Linked DNA regions of Homo sapiens: regions 1 and 2 are each linked to region 3. Evidence: fine-mapped expression QTL. A gene starts in region 3. Each other region holds a variant in brackets. All regions are shown on one strand. Distances are from middle to middle. Region 1 overlaps DECR1 (2,4-dienoyl-CoA reductase 1). Region 2 overlaps NBN (nibrin). Region 3 holds the start of NBN (nibrin).

What was found. PIP is the estimated chance that this variant, and not a neighbour inherited with it, causes the effect.
Region 1: its variant is fine-mapped to the expression of NBN in whole blood (TOPMed, PIP 0.94).
Region 2: its variant is fine-mapped to the expression of NBN in esophagus muscle (GTEx, PIP 0.97).

What each region holds. Positions count from the first base shown.
Region 1 is chr8:90,002,744-90,011,026 of GRCh38, forward strand. The region is part of intron 1 of DECR1 (2,4-dienoyl-CoA reductase 1); the gene reads left to right. Among named protein-coding and RNA genes, the nearest start is that of DECR1, 5.4 kb to the left of the region's middle. RefSeq lists enhancers at 2,873-3,182, 3,343-3,402. The variant A/G (reference allele first, on the strand shown) is at 3,243.
Region 2 is chr8:89,958,069-89,966,068 of GRCh38, forward strand. It overlaps NBN (nibrin), which reads right to left. Exons shown (of 16, transcript NM_002485.5): 8 at 6,342-6,439; 9 at 657-786. Among named protein-coding and RNA genes, the nearest start is that of NBN, 23 kb to the right of the region's middle. The variant A/G (reference allele first, on the strand shown) is at 3,442.
Region 3 is chr8:89,979,937-89,988,200 of GRCh38, forward strand. It overlaps NBN (nibrin), which reads right to left and starts at 4,731. Exons shown (of 16, transcript NM_002485.5): 1 at 4,589-4,731; 2 at 2,786-2,919; 3 at 1,439-1,587; 4 at 798-957. The coding sequence starts at 4,625. RefSeq lists enhancers at 3,824-4,163, 4,295-5,091 and a silencer at 4,284-4,483.

The sequences.
Region 1 (8,283 bases), 23 kb after region 3:
AAAAGTGAGATTTGTTCAGGGTTAGGGTTTTGCTGATTTTTTTTCTCTCCCTGTGAAAACTGGGTTATAGATCATTATAAAGGAAGCCCATATTTTCTGATACTTTTCAGAGACATTTCTCATTTGAAATCTACAACAGCTCTGTGATGTCTTCAGAGATTTCATTTTTTAACACACATCATTAGGATTGTAGCAATAAGGTCATACAGACCTTATCCAAGCTCTTCTGACACCATTAGACAATACAGTTTGAGAAGGAGAAAATGAACTCATTTAAAAATTAATTGTAATCTGACAATTTTGAAATTCCTTTGCTGAAGAAAAATATGGAAGTTTTGAGGTTCAGGGTTGGGAGGCAAGAGAGGTACCTGTTAGTGTGGTTTGTCCCCTTCCTAGCACATGTAGCCTCAAGTTTGAATTCCTGGGAGAAGAAAAGTCTTTACATCTGTGATGTGGGAGGTTGTTCCAGGGAACATCATGTTTTTGTGGGCAAATACAAGTTGTTATAATTAAAACCCCTAATTTGAATATTTTTGTTACCAAGAACCAAGGCAAATGTTTAATTTGTTATAAAACCTGTTTGTGAAGTGCTGTGTTAAATTGTGCTGCTGGCTAATAGGCCTCATTTCAATTTAATAAATATTTATTGAGGACTGGCTTTATGTCTGGCCCTGTGCTATGCCCTGGGACTCAAAATTTAAAAAATACGAGCCCTGCTCTCAACTGTTCTCAAGTTGCTCTCAGTTCTATTGAGGAAAACATTCAGTCATTCAGTTGTTTATGAGGAAACACTAATTAATTAAGTACCTATTAAGTATTGGGCATTCTTTGGCAATTTGTGGTTGAAAGACATTCCTGCCTTCAATGTACTATAGTCTCATATATGTATTTTAAGCCACAAATAATAACCAATGAGTAGGCCTTGAAATCAATTTAGTGGAGCAAAACAGCACTTTGGGAGGCTGAGGCGGGTGGATCATTAGATCAAGAGATCAAGACTATCCTGGCCAACATGGTGAAACCCTGTCTCTAGTAAAAATACAAAAATTACTGGGTGTGGTTTCACACGCCTGTAGTCCCAGCTACTTGGGAGGCTGAGGCAGGAGAATCGCTTTAACCTGGGAGGCAGAGGTTGCAGTGAGCTGAGGTCGCGCCACTGTAGTCCAACCTGGCGATAGAGTGAGTGAGACTCCATCTCAAAAACAAAAAAATGGAATAGAATAGGATATATCTAAATTCATCTCATGTAGTAAGGTTGTTCATTTTGTGAAACTTTAAAAAAAAAATTTACCATTCTTCCTTTTTTGATTCATTCTTTGATTACTATCATGCACACTGCCATGTTTCTTTTCCTTTTGTTTTTATCAAGAGTAATAACTATCCAACCTGATCAACATGGTGAAACCCTGTCTCTACTGAAAATATAAAAATTAGCCGGGCGTGGTGGCGCGTGCCTGTAATCCCAGCTACTCAGGAGGCTGAGGCAGGAGCTACTCAGGAGGCTGAGGCAGGAGAATCACTTGAACCTAGGAGGCAGAGGTTGCAGTGAGCCAAGATCACGCCATTGCACTCCAGCCTGGGCAACAAAGTGAGATTCTATCTCAAAAAGAAAAAAAAAAAAAAGAATAGTAACTATCAAGAGTAAAATCACTATTTTTAGAAAAATGATTCCTGGCCAATATTCAGCAATACAGTTAACAAAGTAAGATATGACCTCAAACTGGCCACCTAGAATTAACTTGGGTTAGCATTTGGTGTATATCATTCCAGGCATCTGTTCTGGTAAAAGGATGGATAGGCATAATTTTACTTGGATGTCACATTTTCCCTTAGTCAACATTGTTTCATTGTTTTCTCACGATGAATATTGTCTTGGAGCAGTATAAAACCAACTAGATGTGTTTTCTTTATTTTTTTTAAATCTGGAAGCCTAAGTATTTCTTTATTCAGTGTAAAATTCTGGAATATAAGCTCTATGCAGGCAAAGATTTTCAACTGTTTTGTCCACTGTTTATACCTAGAACAGTGCTTAGCATAGAGTAAACATGTAACAAATATCTGTTACATGAATGAACGTGTGTACTGTGTTGCTATGAACATGTGTATGTTGCTATATAAATCACATTTCTTGCTATGGTTCACAGTCAGAAAAATCTGAAAAATGATAGTCTAGTGAGTCACCAGCAGACATCAATAGACTGTGAAGATGCAGATGTGTATTATAATGCATATATGACCCAAACTGTACATACCTAGAGGAGGCAAGGAAAGCTTCATGGAGGAGGTGGCCCCAGGAGCCTGCTGTTAAATCAGGAGTTGGAATTTGTGTGGTCCCAATGGCAATATAGACCTAAGGAATAGCATGTATCAAGAAGTGAAAGAGTGGCTTATTTATAAAAATTCAAGTGGTTTGTTTGGTATTGTGGAGTTGGTGAAGTATGGGAACAGAGAGAAGCGTGTGGAGACGAGATCAGTCAGGTTGCTGGGGGACAGGGTATGGTGGGCTTTTCTTATTTATGTAGAAAATTGAGCATTTACTATTTGCTAGGCACCTTACTAGGGATATGAAGGTGAGAAGAAGAGCTGATTCCTGCTGTCAAGAAGCATAGAGTCCAATGGCATTATGGTATGATGTGCCGCATGTTAGGTTGGGTGTTCTTGCTTTTGGATGGGATCCCAAATAAATAGCATCCGTTTTTTCCAGTCTGAAAAATGAGTAAAGATGGAAGCCAAAGTATCACTTTTATTGTGGTTTGTGAGAGGAAGCTGGGCCTATCAGCTGGATCTCCCGAAGTAGGCGGACTTACATAACTCTGGAGGAGGGCAGAACATTGTCCTCTGAAGGCAGCTGGCTCCCAAAAGGAAGAAGACCAAGGAGAACTGTTCATACCCAACGATCCTGTCAAAATTTACCAGTCATATCAACTGTCTCTGCACAGACAGATTGTACCTCAGTCTGTGTTGCTATAAAGGAATACCTGAGGCTGGGTAATTTATAAAGAAAAGGGTTTGTTTGACTCATGATTCTGATGCCTGGACAAGTTCAAGACTGGGCATCTGCATCTGGTGACGGCCTAAGGCTGCTTGCACTTGTGGCAGAAGGTGAAGGGGAGCTGGAGTTTGCAGAGATGGAAGTGAGGGGGTGTTGGGAGGTGCCGGCAAGAGAGGAAGTGAGAGGGTGTTGGGAGGTGCCGGCAAGAGAGGAAGTGAGAGGGTGTTGGGAGGTGCCAGGTTCTTTCACA[A/G]CCTGCTTTAGTGGGAACTAATAGAGTGCAAACTCACTTGCCACTGCCAGGATGAAGATGGTACTACGACATTCATGATGGATCTGCCACCATAACCCAGGCACCTCCCATTAGACCCCACCTCCAACATTGGGGATCACATTTCAACATGAGTTTTCAAGGGACAAACATCCAAACATCCTTAGCAGGTTGACTAAGGGGACAGAAAGAAGCCTGGAGTTGTACTACCTGAACTTCTCACAGTAGGGAGATGTCAGGACTGGGGAAGAAGCATCTCCTGCTCATGGGGGAGGTATGTCCAGTTTTATGAGAGTGTTGTTGTTTGGTATATATCAAAGCTGAGACCTGAAAGATGAGTAGGAGTTAGCCAAAGGGAGAGATGTAAGAATGTTTTAAACAGGAGAGTAGTCTATGTGAAGGCCCAGCATAAAGGTTATCAACAGAGAGTGGGGAGGCAGGAGGTGAGAGACAGCTTAGTGAGCAGCCTGTTGGCTGCGTTAAAGAGTTAGAACTTTGTCCTGCAGGGTGGGAGTGGAGACAAATGGCTAAACCCTGAGTAATCCTCTCATCTGTTGAGAGGTGATGGTGGCCTCAACGAGGGCATGCATTGGGTTTGGAGACACTCAAAGTTGAGTGATATTTAGGAGGTAAAATCAGAGGCCTTGGTGATTGGTTGGTGGTGAGGATGAGAGATGGGGCTATGCTCAGTGGTGACATGTTGCCATCAAAATTGTGAGCAGAAATACGATATCATCAGGTAAGACTGGAAGTAGGGAGACCAAACATCCAAACACCAGTGATGAGGGTCTGAACTGAGGATAGCATTAGAGCTACTGGGGACTAAAACGAACTGGGCTTGGTTTGAATGTATGGGGTAAGATGAAGCCCAGATTTCTGTCTTTGGCCCCTGAGCTAAGGACAGTGCCACTCTCTTGAGTGAGGACATTAAGTGGGGGCTGGAGGGAGAAGAGGAGTAAGTGACATCAGTCCTGAAATGTCAGTAGGGTCTGGGACTCCTCAAGTGGTATATAGATAAATAAGCTACAGAAGTAGAGGAGAGAATGTTAATTCTCCCTGGGAGTGTTAGGGAAAGCACCAGAGCTCTCACAGCTGGGTTTCAATGATGAATGTTGGGTGATGATAGGGAGCAATTTGTGTAAAGACAGGAAAGTAGGAAAGAGTTCATGTTTGGGGAATCCTGAGTACTTTGTTTTCCTGAGTGTAAATTTCAGGGGAGATGAGGCAGAAGAGAGGGACAGGAGCTAGGTCGTGAAGACATATGCTATGGGGAGCGAAGGAATCTGGATATTCTGCAGCTACCAGGAGCCCTTAGAAGATCTTAAGAAGAGAAGTAACATGATCCCATTAGCAGTCCTCGGAAGATCAGTTAAAAGATGACACAGAATAGGCCCCCAATGTTTGTGAATGTTGTGAGATAGGGGTTTGAAATCAGGTGGTGGATATAGAGGGACACTGGGGAGGTAAAAGGCATGGGGCTTATAGACGGATGGGATGTATCAGGTGAAGAGGAGAGGGAGTCACCAAGGTGGGGCAGGGCAGGGCAGGTGGTGGGGGTGGGGTTAATGGATGAATCTTGGCCTTGTAGCTTAAGGATGCATTTGAAGAAATTTCAAACAAACTTCCTGCCCAAACTACAAAGCAAACTTTATATTATTACAAAAAATAATCTAGATCTCAGATATCTCCCAAAGGTCATGATAATGACATCAAAAGAGGGGGGAATTTTAAAGTTATCCAGAGTTTCTTACAGCCCATGGTAGAAAGCATGCAATAGATGTTTAGCAACTTTTAGTTTTTGCAGAAAATTCTAGGTAGAAAATGATCAGCATTCTCAGCTGTCCTGCGCTCTTCTCTTCCTAAGTTGATGAATCATTCTGAGATTGAAGTGCCAGGGTAATGATAAGTAAGTCTAGAATACAAGGTCAACTGCACTTTTATCCCTTCCAGTCTGGGAAACCCTCACACTGCATTGTAACATAAAAGCAGTGATAGAACTGTAGGCTTTCATAATTGCTGGAATGATGAAATGATGTTGCCATTTACCTTTAGCCCTAATTTATTCTTCATGCTTCAAAACCATATTTCCTACTGCAGCTTAGATATCTCTACCTGACTATTCCAGAAGCATCCCAAGTGCAGCATTTCTGATGCAGAACTCATTATCCTCAATGCTCCAACTTGGTCTTCTCATGTCAACCCAGTCATTTCAGTCAGAGCATCACTCTGCATGCAGCCACTTAAAACTAGAACTCAGTTACCTTCCACAGCTCTCACCTTACTTGCCAGGTCTGGCTGGTTGGGTTCTGGGTTCAGGCTAATTTACATGTTAAATGTGTGTGGAATATGTTGTCTTCTCTTAATTTCTACTGCCCTCGGTATCTCTCATGTACACTTAATGACTTCTGTCTGATGAGTCTCCATTTCCTTTTTTCTGGCTCACATTTAAATCTTAATTTTTCTAGAACACAAAGGCAGTGCAGATGTAACAGGGATATTGAGGTAAAGATGAGAGAGGTAGAAAAATCTCTCTCAGTTCTTTTCAGTAAACAGGAGACCTGTTTATATGCTGTTAATGAAACAGGCAAAAATGTGATGAAATAGATCAAGAACAAAAGTCCAAGCTCATGTTGTTGGGCAAGAGGCAAGAAGAAATCATGGATCTAGTGGATATCTTAAATATCCTGACTTGATCATTACACATTCTATGCATGGAATAAAATATCACATGTACCCCATAAATAGGTTAAAATGTTATGTATTAATAAAACATTAAGAAAAAGAAGAAATAATTGGACCAGGCGATATTAGGTACAGTGGTGACTCATTACGTCCTCATTTTTTGGGACCTTTGCTCTTGCAAGTAGTTTTATTTGCTAACTTCCCACCAGTTCACATGATAGCATCCTGGGCTAAGCATCACCATCTCTTGCCTGGCTTGTTATACAAGTGTCCTAATAGTTTCCCTGCTTCCAACCTTGCCCTCTACACTCCATGGCAGCCAGAACAATCCCCTTAAAACTTAAGGCAGATCATGTCCATTCTCTCCTTAAAACTTAGAAGATGTTTCCCACTTGCCTCAGAGTAAAAGCCTAAGTCTCCGTAGTGGCTGACTCAGCCTGCATGGTCCAGTCCCCTTTACCTCACTGACCTCTTCTCCTGCCCCTGTCTCCCTCCTTCCTTCTTCTCCAGCCACACTGGCTTCCTGACTGTTACCCCATCCATAAGCATGCCCCCTGCTTAGGGCCTTTGCTCCCAATCCCTTTTGCCTAAAACCCTGTGATTCATTCTTCTCCTTCACGTCTTTGCTCCAATGTCACCTTCTCAATGAGGCCTTTGCTGATGACTCTATTTAAAGTAGCAATGCTCTATCCCTATTCTCTGCCTTATTTTTTCCCCACACTACATATCAACTTTTAATATACTACATATTTAACTTAATTTCTTTATCCCTCATTCCCCCAAGGATAATCTTGCTGAGAATAGAATATTGTGTCTGTTTTTTTTTTTTACTGCCGTACTGCCATGCCTAGAACAGTGCCTGGGGCTTAATATATGCTCAATAAACACTTGCTTAAAATGAATAAATGAATAAACTCTATATCCATCATAATGTCATGTTTATCCCTAATACTTTTTTATGTAAGCAAATTCCCAAAACAAACTCTTTGCAAGAGCAGAGATTCTAATTTTTGGTTTAAAAAAGATTGTCATTATAGTTTTGGTTAACATGATAGGGGATCAATAAGAGATGACTCAAATCAGAGGCAGGCAGGAGTGAAGACCCTAGCTGAAAATTTCAAATTGCCTCTTAGGTCTGTGATTTCATCTCTTTTTATTTTGTTGTATTGGAGAAGCATCTGTTCAGTCTGCATCTAACTGCAGACAGATAACCACTGTAATAAAATGAGATGTACACCCTATGGCATAGAGCACCGACATTTTCAAGGACTCATGTTCACTGATACAAAATGTATCATTCCTCAAAAATGTAATTTCTGTCTTGCTCCTGGCAACTGCATAATTCAGCTTAGCCATTGGAGCTTGGAGTCCAGCTGGGCAGTTTCTTTTATATTTGTTTAGCCTTACCTTCAGGTTGCTGTGGCAACAAGATCTGTGCTCTGCGGAAGCTGAGAATATCAGTGGCCTCTGTTCAGTGCCCTGCTATAAGTTAAGGAGCAGGCAGATGTGCTTAAGCAATCTACACAGTCATGGAGCATGAGTTAACGAGGCCTGTGGCAAGCTTTTGGTGTGGTACTCAGTTATTTTAATGTCTGCAGGGCAACTGTTGGCATTTGGGGTGAGACAGTTCTTCATTCTGCAAGGCTGTCCTTTTCTGCACTGGAACATCCAGTAGAACATCCCACCAAACTATCCCTTGTATTACCAGATACCTCCAGCTAAGGACCACATACACTGTGCTGAAGTGGCAGTGGTGTGGCCATTGGAAAGAATGCACGCATGGCCTTCTAGCAATCGGACAAAATAAATTGGGAAGTAGTTATGGAAGGCTTCCTGTATTCAGGGAGTACATAAGGTGTTTTGGGAATGCAAAGATGTACACTTTTGAAACTCATCCTTTGAAAAATATGGTTGTCCAGTGTTTACCACGCTGATAGTTTAATATGGCAGTTAGGGCCCAGTCTGCAAAACTCTTATGTGAATTCCAGTTGGAGTAAATTTGATCTAAAAAATATTGATTCAACCTGAACCAACAGATACGTAGAAGCTCCAAGAAAATAGATGTGGAAATATTTCATTATCTTTATAAATATAGCTCACACTTTAGTGTTTAATATAGAGTAGTTATGCTTCAAGTAAGGTATATGTCCTTATCATGAAATTGATTCTAGGCCATTTTTTTTCTTGCTCTGTTTTCCTCTACGTACTTCTTGTATTGTGTGCTTGCCTATATGATTCAGTTTTCTGTTAGCTATTGTTAAAGAAAAAAAATTTATGAACATGTTGAACATTCAAGCAATATAAAAGGATATGCAGTGACAGTGTAATAAGGTTATTATTA
Region 2 (8,000 bases), 22 kb before region 3:
CATAAGAACCTAGATCCCTCACATGCACAGCTCACAATAGGGTTTGTGCTCCTATGAGAATCTAATGCTACCGCTGATCTGACAGGAGGTGGAGCTCAGGCGGTAATGCAAGCAATGGGAGCAGCTGCAAATAAAGATGAAGCTTTGCTAGCTTGCCCGCTGATCACCTACTGCTGTGTGGCCTGGTTCCTAACAGGTGATGGACTGATACCGTGGCTGAGAGATAAGGAACCCCTGGGCTATCTATACTATACAGTACGCTATACCATGTAGGTTTATGTCAACACACTGTTCGATGTTCACACAATGCCAAAATTGTGTAAGGAAGCATTTCTTGGAAAGTATCCTTGTCTTTAAGAGACTACGTATTGTCTCTTGACAATGACTACATATCGTCTATGGCCACTTTCATGCTACAGTGGCAGAGTGGAGGAGCTGGGACAGAGATCAACAGTCTTCAAAGCCGAAAATAACTACTCGCCGCTCCTTTACAGAAAACCTGCTGACCCTTGTCCTAAGATATCATTTTCCCTGGTATCCCATTCTTCCATGCTTTCTCTCTCAAGAGACAACCTGATAAAGGGCATTACTTCCTGAATATACTATTAATTTATTGATAGAATAATAACAATAGTACGGTAATGAAGAAGCTTTACCATGTATCTGCTTGCTCTGATTCTGTGTCAGCTACGTATGTTGTAGTGTTCACTGGGGCGCTTGGCATTAGTTTTTCATCAACTGACACGCCTTGTGAAAGGCTTGGTCCTGGAGTTGTTGTCTTTAATCCTGTAAATCACACAAGTAGAAAGAAAGAATCACAACTGCTAGATAGAAGATGAACATCTGGTCACTTAAAATTGTTAGACTATACCATGCTGAGGGGATTAACTAGGGAATACTGCACATGGTTTTCTCCAATGAGTGGTACCAACAAACACAAAACAGTCTATAAGCAGCCTGCGGGCATCTATGACGGGCTTATCTAAACCAAATCATTTTAAAGCCACATCAGATACTTTGTGCTGAAGTCTTATCAACTGAAAGAAAAATAAAATAAGCAAATTCTAATTCAAATTATGTTTTAAGTCAGTGGGCCAAAAAATTACATTTATTCCCCCACAGAAAGTGTATACACCCTACCATCTATAGAAATCAGAATTAGTGAGTTTTATTTTCATAAGGAATACATTATTTGAAACAAATCATGTAAAACCATCTTAGACATAAACTTCTGGCTACTCCAGAAAACCATAATGATTACCTCATCTTTTTACTTACCAGAAGAACAACTTAGTTCAAGTGCTGCTCTTCTGGAATACTTTTTTTGAATCTCCCACACTGAATTAAGTGCTCTCCAATTCTCCTTCCATACCACCACGCAAATCATTCTAATAACAATTCAAGCCAGGTGCAGTGGTTCACGCCTGTTATCCCAGCACTTTGGAAGGCTGAGGCAGGAGGATCACTTGAGCCCAGGAGTTTGAGCCCAGCCTGGGCAACACTGGGAGACCCCATCTCTACAAAAATTAAAAAAAACTTGCCAGGCATGGTGGCACACACCTGCAGTCCAAGCTACTCAGGAGGCTAAAGTGGGAGGATCACTTGAGCCCAGGAGGTCAAGGCTGCAGTGAGCAGTGATTGTGCCATGGCACTCCAGCCTAAGACCCTATCTCAAAAAACAACAACAAAAAAGCAATAAACAAAATTCACTTATGACTAGCTGAGTGACCTGTGTCAAGTTATTTAACTTCTCTATGCTTCCCTTTCCTCATCTATAAAATGAGAATAATTATAACATCTGCCTCACAAAGTTGTTTGGAGGGTAAAATAGCCCCTAGAAAAATGCTTGGAACATAGTAAGCACTGTGCCAGCATTAGCTGTTATCATTATCATCACTTGTTTACTTGCTACTTTCCCTTGTTAGACTGGTGTATCCTTGAGAATAAGGACTAAGTCTTGTGTATTTCTGTATCACCAGTACCTAGAGCAATATTTGGTATAGAGTAGATGTAAAAAAAGTTTACACTATTAACTGAAAAAAATTTTAAGTTGATATTTACTAAACACCTAAGCTAAATTATCATTCTGCTAGGTCCTTGTGACACAGGATGTGCTTAATATTTACTACTAATTCTAAATTCAGATATTTAAATGACTTCCGCCACTTTCTCTATGTGACCTCTAGAAGCTCACTGGCATTTCCTTTAAGACACATATCTCTAGAATTCATTTTCAGCTGCACATAAGTTTGGAAAGAGTAAAAATTATAAATGTTCATATCATCACTGAATAATTTAATGTAGGCTCGGTGAGGTGGCTCGCTGCTGCTCAGCACTTTGGGAGGATGAGGCAAGAGGACTGCTTGAGGCCAGGAGTTAAGAGACCAACCTGGTCAACATAGTGAGACTTCATCTCAACAAAAAAATTTAAAAATTAGCTGGGCATGGTGGTGCACACCTATAGTCCCAGCTACTCAGGAGGGTGAGGCAGGAGGATTGCTTGGGCCGAGGAGTTCAAGGCTGCGTGAGTTATGATCATGCCACTGTACTCCAGCCTGGGTGACAGAGCAAGACTTTATGAAATAATAATAATAATAATAAGCTAATGACCCAAAATAACTGGTGTTTGTTAACAGATTACTTACAATTTTCTCCTTGTTAAAAATACCATAAGGGCAGGAACTTGGTCTCATCTATTCACCTCTTTATTTCAAGTGCTTGCCATAATACAGGTATATAACAAATGTTCAATAAGTATTTGTTGAATAACAAAAGAGTGAATATAAAAACAAAGGAAGGAGGAGAGAAAAGGGAGACTCATTCACTCTGTTCCCCCAAAGTTGGTTGTGCTATAAAATTATTTTATTATCAGAGGACTATGACTTGGAACCCACCTAAACCTACCTACGAAAATATGCAAGAAGTAATACTACATACAGTGTACTTTTTAATTCACTCTCATGACTTTGTTTCTGTAGGAAATAATACATCAGAAAAAAGCACCAGTCTGGTAGTCAGAAAACCAAATTTTAGAACTGGCTTGGCCATGAAGTAGTTATGTACCTTAACTTTTCTCAGCCTTGGTATACCTTATCTTTTAATAGAACGATTAGATGATCTCTAAGGCCCTTTCAGCTATAAACACAATTTCAACAGTGGGTGACAATATTTTGTTGCTCCACACTGGAAAACATAATCTTGTGTACCAATAGCTTAGTTCAATTACGCAAAATATTTATACCTATTACAAACAAGTACCGTGCTTGCTGCTGTTAGGGGATCCCAAATTAGTAAGAGCCTACAATCTACTCAGTGGCTGAAAGAGGTGTGGAAACAACTGGTTATATCCAAAGTAGGAAGAAACTCCGGCTGGAATGCAAAAAAGCTACTGAGCATAGAAACAGAATAATTACATCTGACTTGGAGGAGTTGGGAGTGAAA[A/G]CAATTTAGAAGAGCCTTACGAAGGAGGTAATCATTTGTAGAATGAGTCAGATTTTGACGAGCAGTACTGAACATTCTAGGAATGGAACATGATGTTCAAGGTGAGGAAGTGTGGGAACTATAAAAAATATGGCACACATATTCTGTAGAGAAACTATGTAAAAAAGGCGAGGTCGGGAGGAGGAAGGCTGCAGCTAAACTACTGAGGACTCAGAAGTCTAGACAAAGGGCTTGGAGATTTATTCTGTGGATAATAAGAGCTAGTTAAAATTTTTGAGAAAAGAGAAGGTAATTGAATAGTGGCATAGTGAAATATTAACTGTAGAGATGAGTCTGGAGTAAGGACCATTACTAGGGCAATTACTAATACAACCAGCACTCCAGAGAGAAGGATGTAGAGGGTTCAAACAGGGTACTGGCTGTGAGAAGGGGACAGTCACAGACCTCTTGAGCAGAAGCTGTAGAGTGAGAATTTCAGGTCTTGGTGATAAAATGGAAAAGGAAGAATAAAAAATGTCCAAAGTTTCCAGTCTGAGTGCTTCTTCTTTTTATATAAAAGAAGACTCCTCTCTAGTTCATTTCTTCTCAAGACTATTCTAATTTAGTGGTTTCTAGAGTTTGTATAGGAAACAGGAGCTTAAAAATCAAACAAAACCAACCAAAAAACTCAGATGTCTAGGATGCATCCCAGAATGTTCTGAATCATGGACAATGTACGTTTGTATTCAGAATTGTTTCTGAAGCATATATCTAGTTGAGAATTGATTTTCTAAACAGAGAAACACAGGACAGTGACCCCAAATGGGTGCTGAGACAAGGGGAGCTACTGACTTAGACCTAATCACCGTTTTTATATGTTTGTTGTAATTAAAGTCTAAAATTACTGATACTGATCTTTTTTCTGTAAGAGAACAGAAATCTATCAACAAAATAATATCTACAGCACCTGCTAGTTCTAAAAGTTGAGCATATTTCTAGTAGACAAGGAAGCAGTAGTTTCTCCAAGAATATGGCTCTCTTTGGCATCCACATTTAAAAAGTTCCCTTGCCAAGAGCCTGAAGAGTTGGTCTTTAGCTTTTTACTTTATGGATGAATTCTGGGAATTTGGTGAAAATATTAATCATATCACGATTCCACCAAAATAAGTGATTTGGTTATATTTAAAACTTCACAAGAACTTACGACTGTGTGTATTTGAAGGTTACCTATGTACAGACACAAACATATGTAGTATACTCAATGGGACAGGGTAGAGATGTCAGCTGAATAAACATTCTTATCCAAATAATAAAATACTAGCCTGTCAAATTTTATCAGATGTCTATGCTTTTGCATCAGCTCCCAATCATCCCTACACCACCATTTCTCAAAACGTCACACATTAAAATATAAGCCATTTGTACTGCAATGTGATGTCGTAACAGCTTTAAGACTCAGCTTGAACCAATTACTTGCTATGTGACCTCCAGCTAATTTCCTCTCTGTCCGTCAGTTCCCTCATCTACGAAAAGTAGATGATGCTCTTCCCTCTATCTTATAAGGACTGTTTTGCAGATTAAAGTTTGATGATGGTAAAGTGCTTACTCTAGTCTCTGCACACTCCAGAGACAGCAGTTATTATTACTATGCATGGTTACTAACGATCTACATACCTAATAGCTTCCTGGTCATTAGGCCGTAATGGCTAACTCCTTCCAAAATTTAGCTTAGCACATTCCTTACTTGTTTAAACCAAGGTTGCAGAGCACTCAGGAGATACACGGACTGACTCCATAGTTGCCATTCAATGGACTACAGTGAATGATGCTCCCCGGAGTGTGCAATCTGGTAGTGCTGTTCTCTAACTTGTCTCTTTTAGCCCAAGTTCAATAGCTGCTGATGAAATAACTACACAACAAATCCAGGGAGCAAATAAATATATAAGGAATACAGAATGGATGCTCTGAGAGCTAGGCAAATTAGATAAAAGTTAGTAGAGAGAATAAATGTAAAAATCTCCAAGGTAAAAAAGCAAGAAGAAAAGAAATAAACCATTTTTACAACAACTTACTAAAAAATTTTTTTAAAAACTATGGAAATGTGTTTTAACTAATAAAGGGGAAACAGTGACTGTCTCTGAATACATTGGCTTTCATGATTAACACTGAGATTATTATAATGCACATTCTTCATCTCAGTAAATGGCACCACCATCCACCCAGTTACTTATGCTAGGAAACTAGGAGTTGTTTCTAACTGCTCCACCGGAAAGTCCCACCAGGTCTAGTTCTAAAATATATCCTGAACCTGTTCATTTTTCTGCATCTCTACTATTACCATGCTGGTCCAAGGCATCAGGCTCTTTCACATCCAGATTTCCACAATAGCATTCTATTCACATCTCCTCTTACACTGTCGACCCTTAGAATTCTCCACACAAACCTAAGAGTGATCTGTTCCTTCTACCTGGAATTATCCACCACCCAGATCCTCACACAGCTGCCTTTTCCCATCATTCAGGACACATGGCTCAAATGTCACCTCCTGAGACTTTCCTTGAATACCTATCTAAATAGCCTACTACCATCACTATTACATACATCACCTTGTTTTACCTGTCTTTATACTTGGCTTGATCTGAACTTACCATGTGTGTGTGTTTGGTTACTAAATCTTGATCTTCAGAACATAAAGTTTATAATAACAAGGATCTTTCTTATTTTATTTACCACTTCATAACAGTTTCTGCTACATGGCAGCCACAAATATTTATGGAATGAATAAATGAAAGTATAAATGGATGAATTTTAAAACATGGTGAATATGGTCACCCCTAGCAAGTATATGAGTAACGTATATTTAGCTTATCGATTTACATAATAAAGTTGCTAACGAATCAATAAAATAATGCTTCAATTACCTGTACTGGGATGGCCCTGAGGATCACAGTAATTCTTTGTAGTCATGAAAATCACCGCCAATCCAATTTCTGCTTCAGGAATAGGTCTAAGACCTTGCCTATTAGAATAAAATAGTTTAAGTATGATAATATATTAAAACTAGCAACTTTTATTCAGATAATGTCAAGATAAAGCAACCTCTTTTTTTTCCTCCCAAATAATTTTATGGTATAGACAGAATTTCAAATGCAGAGTACTATAATAGCTTACTCGCTGGGGCACTGTTACGTTGACAAGTCTACCATCTTTTAGTAACTCCATTAACTTCATCTGTAAAATAAGGGGCTAAAGAATATAGATCTTCCCAGTTCTAAAATTCTACAATTTTTGGAATAAAAAGAATACAGTACTACCCAAATTAAACAACAGAACAGGCTTTTATGGCCAGGCATGGTGGTTCATGCCTGTAATCCCAGCACTTTGGGAGGCTGAGGCGGGTGGATCACTTGAGGTCAGGAGTTTGAGACCAGCCTGGCCAACATGGTAAAACCTCATCTCTACTAAAAATACAAAAATTAGCTGGGTGTAGTGGTGCACGCTTGTAATCCTAGCTACTCAAAAGGCTGAGGCAAGAGAATCGCCTGAACTTATGAGGTGGAGGTTGCAGTAAGCTGAGATCGCGCCACTGCACTCCAGCCTGGATGACAAAGCGAGACTCCGTCTCAAAAAAAAAAAATTAAAAAAAATCACCACAGGCTTTTACAAACAAATCTACGGATACTATGAGCCTAAGATGAAACTTCAAAGAGAAGAAAAAAAGAAGAGAGAGAGGAAGGACGGAGAGAAGTAGACAGAACTATACCTAAGGTATATCTATACATGTGTTACAACTTTTAGTAAATCAAATCATTTTGCCAAATTTACAAGTATTAAGGTATCTTCACATTAAAGGAATCTTATGGTGAACCTATTTTTTGTTGTTCTGTAAGGTCAATGACTGATTTTATAAAAACAAAAATACACCATTTAATATCATATAAAAATTACACCTCAAATTTTAACAAACAACTACAAAATGTCTTCAATACTCATTGTAAAGATTTTTTTTTTTTTTTCTGAGACAGAGACTTGCTCTTTCACCCAGGCTGGAGAGCAGTGGTGCAACCATGGCTCACTGCAACCTCTGCCTCCCAGGTTCAGGCAATTCTTGTGCCCTGAGCTTCCCAAGTAGCTGGAACCACAGGCGCGCACCAACACACCCAGCTAATTTTTGTATTTTTAGTAGAGATGGGGTTTCACTACGCTGGCCAGGCTGGTATCGAACTCCTGGCCTCAAGTGATCCACCCTCCTCGGCCTCCCAAAGTGCTGGGATTACAGGCGTGAACCACCTTGCTCAGTCAAGATATTTTAAATGGTTAGTTCGTAAGGTCTTTTTGAAATGCTTAATGTGTCTTTTTGTGTGTACTGAGCTTACTTAAATAGGATTCAGTTATACGTGCAATTAAAGTATCAGACTAAAAAAATAAAATCTAAAAAACCTTTATAATCAAGTGATCACATATACCTACCTGTAATTTAGGTAATTCAAAACTGGTATTTTATTTACTAACTTTTGCAACTATAACTTATACTATGTGAATTAGTTATAAAGAATGGTTACATAAAATAGAAACATTTT
Region 3 (8,264 bases):
GCCCACACTTAAATATTCTGGTAAAGGTGCATCCCTACTGAAAACCATAAATGGACACTTTGATTTGTAAATCTACTATTTGTAAGTTTATATGCATATATTAGTACTCTGGAGGCTAATCACACTGCTGAATTTATAAAATCAATTTCATAAATGTGCAAAAATAAAAAAACCCTTGATTACAGACAACCCCACCAAAGTACAAGTTGAGTTCCAGCTGAGCGGCAAGCCTTTCTCCACGATAACTCTTTAGCTATAAAACATAATTCTAGTTTAATTATATTAAATACTAAAGGATTTTTAATAAAGGAATCTAAGTATTTGTGGCTTTTTACTATAGATATTAACCTAAAAGGATCCCACAAATCTATAGGTCAACCTGTTTAAAAGGAGATGAATCACCTGGAGATTGGAGAAAGACAACTTGATAGAAAGACATGAGATGCAAACTTTGAAGACTGGCAGTTAATCTCTAGTTGCGTTGCTTTAAGACTGAAAACACAAAGTATGCACTGTCATAACCTTCTCGGTGGAAGGACAACAGAATCGCTTTTTAAAATGCTAAACAAAATCTGAAATATAATTTTAGTTGCTTTTGGCTTGTCTCAGATAATAAACAGGTTATATGAAAAGCCACTCAAGCCTAAATGGTATACAAAGGGATGGAGTGGGTATATATAAATCTACAACTAACAGTTCTGATAGTTTTAAAGTAATTAAAAAAAAATCTGTGTATAGTGGGTAAGCTTAAATTCAAATAACTTATTTTTAACATAAGAACAAGACATTCAACCTACTTTAATGGTAACTTTCACTGATACCATGACAAGGTGAGTGCATTCTTCTGTCCAATTGTTTACAGTAAATCCTCCAAGTTGCAATATAGCTTGATTTAAAGCAGTTTTCCCAGAGACATCTAAACAAGAAGAGCATGCAACCAAAGGCTCATACTCTATTCTGTAAATGAGAATAAGTTAAATAAAGTCATAGTATCAGAGTTGCAGAGATGGCAATTTTTAGTACTTTAAAACTTTAAGCTCACATCATATACTGTTATTGTAACTTTTATTTATTGTTACCCTTTGTAACCTATGAAATTATCAGTTCCTCATCATTAAGCTTTGTAACCTAGAAAATTATCAAATCCTAAGTCTTGAGTCCAAATGAAGAAAAAACAATGACCAAAAGTTAACATTATACCTTCACCAATGAGGAATCGAAGAAATGTAACTTCCCATGAAGTCCCTCAGGGCCCACTCAAACTCTCATCACCGTGATGTACAAAATGCACTCACCACCCATGGCACAGAGTCCAATACTGTGCTAAGCAGGAACTAAATTATACTGTTTTAAATTCATTAATCAGAAATATCATTTTCCTTTAGGATTTGGCTGAAACAAAGCTGTCCATTTTAAAATCAATTTTAAAATGTCTTACCTGAATTTACTTCCAAACACTCCAAAAGTAATACCATCCCCCGACTTCAAAGTTCGGGAAAAGCCATTCTGCATTTTTTCCTCATTAACAAAGGTACCATACTTAGAATTATCTTTTAATGTCAATACAGGGATTTCATCTGTTTGACTCTGAAAAGTTAGCAAATAATTTAAAGTCTTTTACCACTCAGTACATTCACTTCTCAGAGAAAAAGTTTTCAAAAGAAAAGACAATAGGCAGGTGGCTAACCTCCCAACACGGCAGACAACAATTACTGCTTCGGTTGCCTTGAGAGGAAGATCACTCAACTAACAATTCATATTTCCCCTTAGGGAAGTTTCTTAACCCAGGAATACCCCTCCTAGAACACACATGTTCTTTATTTGTGTAAGTCAGTGGGGATTCTCCTGACCCCTCACACACATTTGAGAATTTTTTGCTTTGGTGCAGTCTGTTTCATTTAAAACATGACAATTTCATTCCTAGATCTTTTTTTGTTTGTTTTACAGTATCAAAACCACATTGTAAAAATTAGTCCCATGAGAATACGAGGTTATAGGCTAGTGTTTCTGACTTACAGTAACAATTTTACTTTTTCTGTAGAAATTTCCAAAATGTTTTTCTATACCTAAAAGAACAGAAACAAAACCTAAATAAAACTGAAGAAATTCATATCGCATATATGCAATCTTTGATTAAAATAATGGCTCATCTTTCTTATTACCACCAGCGTTATCATGAGTACAGATATTCCTATGTATTTTTTTTAGCACTTTTATCACCCAAGGTTATGATCAAAACAAACTGAAAGCCATTTAAAGGAGCTGTGGGGCATAAGTAAGCATTTCCCTAATAAAACAAATCAATTCCCATTGCAAAAACTTGTATTATATGAGAAATGCCCGTTTCCACACAGCTACATAACCTCTTTAAGAGCCAGAGTCATGAAGGTCTGTTCATTGTTCTATTCGCAGGGTTGGCACAGTTACTGACACATAAAAACACATTACTGCTAATGGCAAAAACAGCAATTACTTTTGCACCAAACTAATAGTAAACAATAAATGTTTAGTAAGCAAATAAAAATAACTATGTCCTACTTCCTCTGAGTTTCTAACTAAAACAAAGAGTAAATTACTGAAATAGAAACTTCAAATCTCAAAATGAACAAATACCACTGGTACCACTGCCACAATATAAGTATTTAATTTTGTTAACATTAAAAAAGTCTACACAGCTCTATAAAATGACAAATCCTGTGAACTCTCTCTCACATACAAACCAAGAGAATATTTTGTGATTTCAACCCCCTTACTGGAAACTAGTGAAATAAAATTAGTAACATACCAGGTTGGTTACAGAAAAGTTAGCAGTTAACACAGCATGATTTCGGCTGATCGACTGATCATTTTCAATCAGAATGGCACAGTTTTTCCTTCCAACAACGTACTCAACGCCAGTCAAAAGTCTGTATGGTTCTCCTGAGATAAATTTTTTTTTAAAAAAAGATAAGTTGATAGACACATACACATGTACACGAACACACACATACATGTAAGTGTATATGATATAGGTATGACAAATATTAAATAAAACACCTTTGTTATTCAAATGTTAGTCAACTTTACATATGTCAAACTTGTGTTTTCAGTAAAGCCTCACTGAAGGCTATCAAAGGTTATCTAACTATGGTGTTTCAGGAGTAACAACAACAAAATTTAAAATACAATAAAAAAGAGAAAAAGAAAAAAAGGTTATCTAAACAGATAGAAGGCTACATCATTTTTCTAAAGGGAAAGCAATGCTGAAAGGAGTCAATGTTCCCTCAAATTAACTTAAAAACTTAATGTATTACCTAGCAACAATCACAATATTATGTTTGGAACTTGATAAACAAAAATATCAGGAAACTATAAAAAAAGATGCTCAAGCCTGTAATCCCAGCTACTTGGGAGGCTGAAGCAAGAGAACTGCTTGAACCCAGGGGATGGAGGTTGCAGTGAGCCGACACAGTGCCACTGCACTCCAGCCTCGGTGACAGAGTGAGACTCCGTCTCAAAAAAAAAAAAAAATCAAGAAAAATGTGAATAATATAATAGGAGCTTGCCCTACCAGATGGCAAAATATGCCATAAAACTAAAAGTATGGTACTGGACCATGAGTAAACAACACAGACCAATGCAACAAAGTCCAGACTAAGATGCACGTGTACATTTTTTGAAAATTTGTTTTTATCTTAAAGATAACATCTCCAATCAGTGGGAAAGGGTTATCAGTTTCTTTTAAAATTGCTGTAAATCATAAGTTGTTGGAGTAACAGTATATATATTGGAGACATGCGGAGTTGAGTCTGGGAGCATAATTTCATTACCCGAGTGGCAGGGAGATTAGGGCAGATAAAGAGTAGGGAGTCCAGAAGAGCCAGGTCTCCAGGGACGCCTTGACCTGTGAGTCTTCACAGTATAAAATTTATTTAGTTTGGCGCTCTCCATACTCTCTTACCCTGCCAGTCCATTTAGTCTCTACATAGATCTTTGCCAATCATCATGTAAACTTCCCGAGGACAAGACCCTTCACACCCACCACGGGCAACCAATTAACATGTGATCACATTTCACACCGCTGGAAATGAATGGGAAAAAATCGACTTTTCCCATTGTTCTGATGACATTGTGGAAAAGGAGTCTGAAACAAAACTGAAAGTAAGCCTTTTCGTGGTAGTCATTTCCCCAAACTGTCCAGTAGTTCTTCACAAGTCATGTGTGGCCCCCGTGTGGTCCGCCCATGCTAACTTCCTGCCGGGGGTTCCCACTAGGCGCCTGCTGCCGCTTACCCGCAGGCCATCCAGCCCTAGCGCTGCAACGGCGCGGGGGTGAGGCTGGGAGGGAGGGGGAGTCAGGGGAGGGGCGCGGAGGACTGCCACCAGGGGGCGCCGCAATCACCCCACCGCCCGCGCTGAATTCCAGCTCACAGCCGCCGTGCTGCCCGGGAAGAATATGCGCTTGCCATACAGCGTACTCGCCGCTTCTGCGACCGCTTCCGCAGCGTCCCCGGGCAGGAACGGACGCGACGCAGGAATCACCCGCAGGCCCTCCCCCGAGGCAGTCGCTACCGGGAAAATAGGCCCCGAGGCTTCCCTTCTGCCCTTACCTCCTGCCGGGCCCGCGGCGGGCAGCAGTTTCCACATCGGTCCGGCTCCTCAGGGCTGGGGCCGACGTGCAACCGCGTAACCGGGGCTGCTAGACGAGCGCGGATACGGCGCCTGCGGTCGGCATGGGCTCCGGGACGTGCGCGCTCCCGGGAGCCACGCAGGCTGCCTTGGATGAGGCGGGAGTGCGACTTGGGCGCTTGCCCGCCACCTGGTGGTTGGAAAAGGAACAGCACAATCTGTATTGAAATGTGCTGCGTTAAAAGGGTATGTTTCTAAGGTGTCGCTGAATGTAAGGTTACTACCTTTCCTGATTATGAACGAAAAGAATTTTAAAAACTAACTCCAAAGCAACATAAGGAAAATTTTTAATTAAATGCATTAAAATACTTACCAGTTATGTAGTTTCGTGCGTTTGCAGTTTCTTAAATTGCAGGTATTCCTTTGGAATCTAGTAATGGTGATAATAATGATGAAGATAAGGATTTCACCTCGAAGTAAACTCATTATTTTTACTCTTTTCTAAGTTCAAATCAACTTGTCTTAACGTCTTTATTTCATAATGCCACACTTTCAGCTAATCACATGCTAAATACTGGGCAGTCTCCTGTATTTAATACCCTTCCTTTCCACTTCCACCTGTCTCAAGCTGGTTCAAGCTCTCCTCCTAATTCCAGTAGCTTCCCAACCCATCACCACCCACGTCCCACATAATGTAGTCTACATCCTGCGCACTACTAAATAAACATCTGAGAGCACACTCCTGATCACATACATTTTGGCTTTCAAAAGCATTCTGTAATAGGGGGGAAAAGTCACTTTAAAAAGGCTTGTTTAGGCCCAGCACCATGGCTCGCTCCTTTAATCCCAGCAGTCTGGGAGGCCAAGATGGGAGGATCACTTGAGGCCAGGAGTTCAAGATCAGCATGGGCAACATGGCAAGACCCTGTCTTTATAAAAAATTTTAAAGTTAGCAGGGCTTGGTGCCATGCTCCTGTATTCCCAGCTACTCAGGAGGCTGAGGCAGAAGGATCACTTGAGCCCAGGAGTTCGATGCTGCAGTGAGCCATGATCATGCCACTGCACTCTAGCCTGGGCGATAGAGCAAGACCCTGTCTCAAAAAAAAAAAAAAAAAAAGGCTGGTTTACCAATCTCTTATCATCATAGATGCAAACTCCTAAGCACAATATTAGCAAATTGAATCAAGTAGTAGTATAAAAAGAATAATCATAACTAAGTGAGATTTATCCAGAAACAAAAGGGTGGGTTAACATTGGGGGAAAAAATAAATGTAATTCATCATAATAATTTTAAATAGGAGAAAAATCATGATTATCTTGATAGTAGCAAAGAAATTGATAAAATTAAGCACCCATTTAGGATAAAAACCTCTCTGCAAAGTAGGAATAGAGAAAACATCCATGATCTGATAAAGGACATTTACAAAAAAAACTACAGTTTACGTTATACTTAAGGTAAATTATTGAACATTTCCCCATGACATCAGTAATGAAACAAGGATGTACACGCTCTTACCACTTATTTTCAGCATGGCTTTAGATGCTCTAGCCAATGCAATAAAGGAGAAAGAGTAACAAAAGACATTCAGATTGGAAAGGAAGAAATAACAGTCATTATTCACAAATTACACGATTGCCTATATTGAAAATCAAAAAAACTGTTGGCAAACTATTTTAATTAATAAATGAATTTAATAAGGTTATAGATACAATATCTAGATACAAAATTTAATTGTATACCTTTATTCCAGAAAATAAATAGAAAATTACATGTTTAATTATAATGGCACCAAAATAATCGAGTGCTTGGTAATACATCGATCAAACTATGTAATACAAAACATGATTGACTACATAACATTATTGACAGAAAGTTTAAAAAGTCCTAAATAAATGCAAGGATAATGGATCATGTTCACAGATTGTTAAGATGTCATTTCCCCCAAAATTGTTCTATAGATTCAATGTAACTTCAGCAATCTCAAATGCTTTTTTTGAGTAGAAATGGATGAGCAGATTCTAACATTTATATGGAAATGCAAATGCCTAGAATAGCCAAGGCAATTTTGAAGAACAAAGCTGGAATATTTAAATTATGAAATACTAAGATCTATTATAAAGTTACAGTTATTAAGTCAGTGTTTGCTTGGTACAAGGATAGAAAACAGGCAAATGAGTCAGAATAGAGGGACCTAAAAAAAGTGGACACATAAGGTAATTTGATTTTTCGAAGGTGATTACAGGGCAACAAAGGAAAGTCTCATGTGACCCCACCCCACCCCACAAATAAATGATCCCGTTTATTAACGTGACACAAGAAATGTGTTAACATAACACAGGAAATGAAGACTGATCCCCCTAATTCATTTAGATGAATTAGAATTCATCTAAATTCCAGATGAATCATTATTTACATAGGAAAGTAAAATAATAAATATTAGTGGAAGAAAACATGATTTCAAAGTAGGCAGATCTTTCTTAAGTAGGACACACAAAAGTATGCCCTGCATCATAGAATCCCTAAATTTCACTGATTTAGTGAAGCATCAACATTTTGCAGGAATTTTCTTCCACATTCTGAAGTATACATATCTCACCAAGGCCTCCAACCTGTTTGCCAAATCCTTACTCATCCAATCTGGTGAGCATAATACCATCACTGTAGTAGAACAGTGGATGTTCTGCAGCATGTCCAGACACTTCAGGTCTCTTGGGAATACATTATGATAGAGGTTAAGGAGATACAGCTTAGCTCTGGGTCAACATTGCAAGTATTTTCTATTATTTTTTCTAATTAAATATGAGCACTTTTGGATTCTACTTTCTGTTAAGGTTGGGGAAGCACATGTCATCATATCAATCACCCCAAACCTGTTGCCTGAGGTCATGTTGTTCTGCTCTTGTAAAGATTTCACATCTGGTACAGCAGCTCTAATTGGGGTTATTACTTTGTTGATTGCAGTAGTCGGCTGTTTATTCTCCAGGAACTGTTAGGCTTTTGTAGGTCAAGTATGATGAATTAAATGGAGATAAAAAGGGAGCCAAAAAGAAAGCACTAATATCTATCATTCCCCTATATTGTTCTTGCTCACTGTCATGGCTGTACAATTTGAGGCTGCTCCCTGTTGGCCTTGCCCGCGTTGATAGTTCTTACCCTACAGGCCAAGGAGCTGAGGTGGGTATTGTAAGAACTACCAAGGATGTTCATTTCAATTATATATTTGGGAACTAGGAAAATGACCACCACGTAAGTCTATGTGTTCGGTGGACCCACTGTATGCCAGACCTGGACAAGGACTCCCTTAACTCTCTGGCTTCTGAATACCTCTGCTTTAACCAGGAGTCATAATATTTTGGGTTCATGGGTATCAATAATGATCATGTCCCACAGCCCTCCAAGTATTTGGGCATTCTCTTTTCCTCAGTGTATGATTTTCCAAGCGAATGGCTATAGGTCCCTTAAGGGAAAGACTGAGAGTAGGGTGGGGTGCGGGGAGGTCATTACCATATATTCTTGCTATGGGATTGCAGGGTCCTTCTTACTGGCAGTCCTGCCTCTCCACCAGTCAATGGGTTCTGGATTGGCAAAGTGGCTCAAATCAGGAAATTCGGAAAGAGACTGTGACTTTTTGTTGAGGCTGCTGCTCTGAGCCTTGT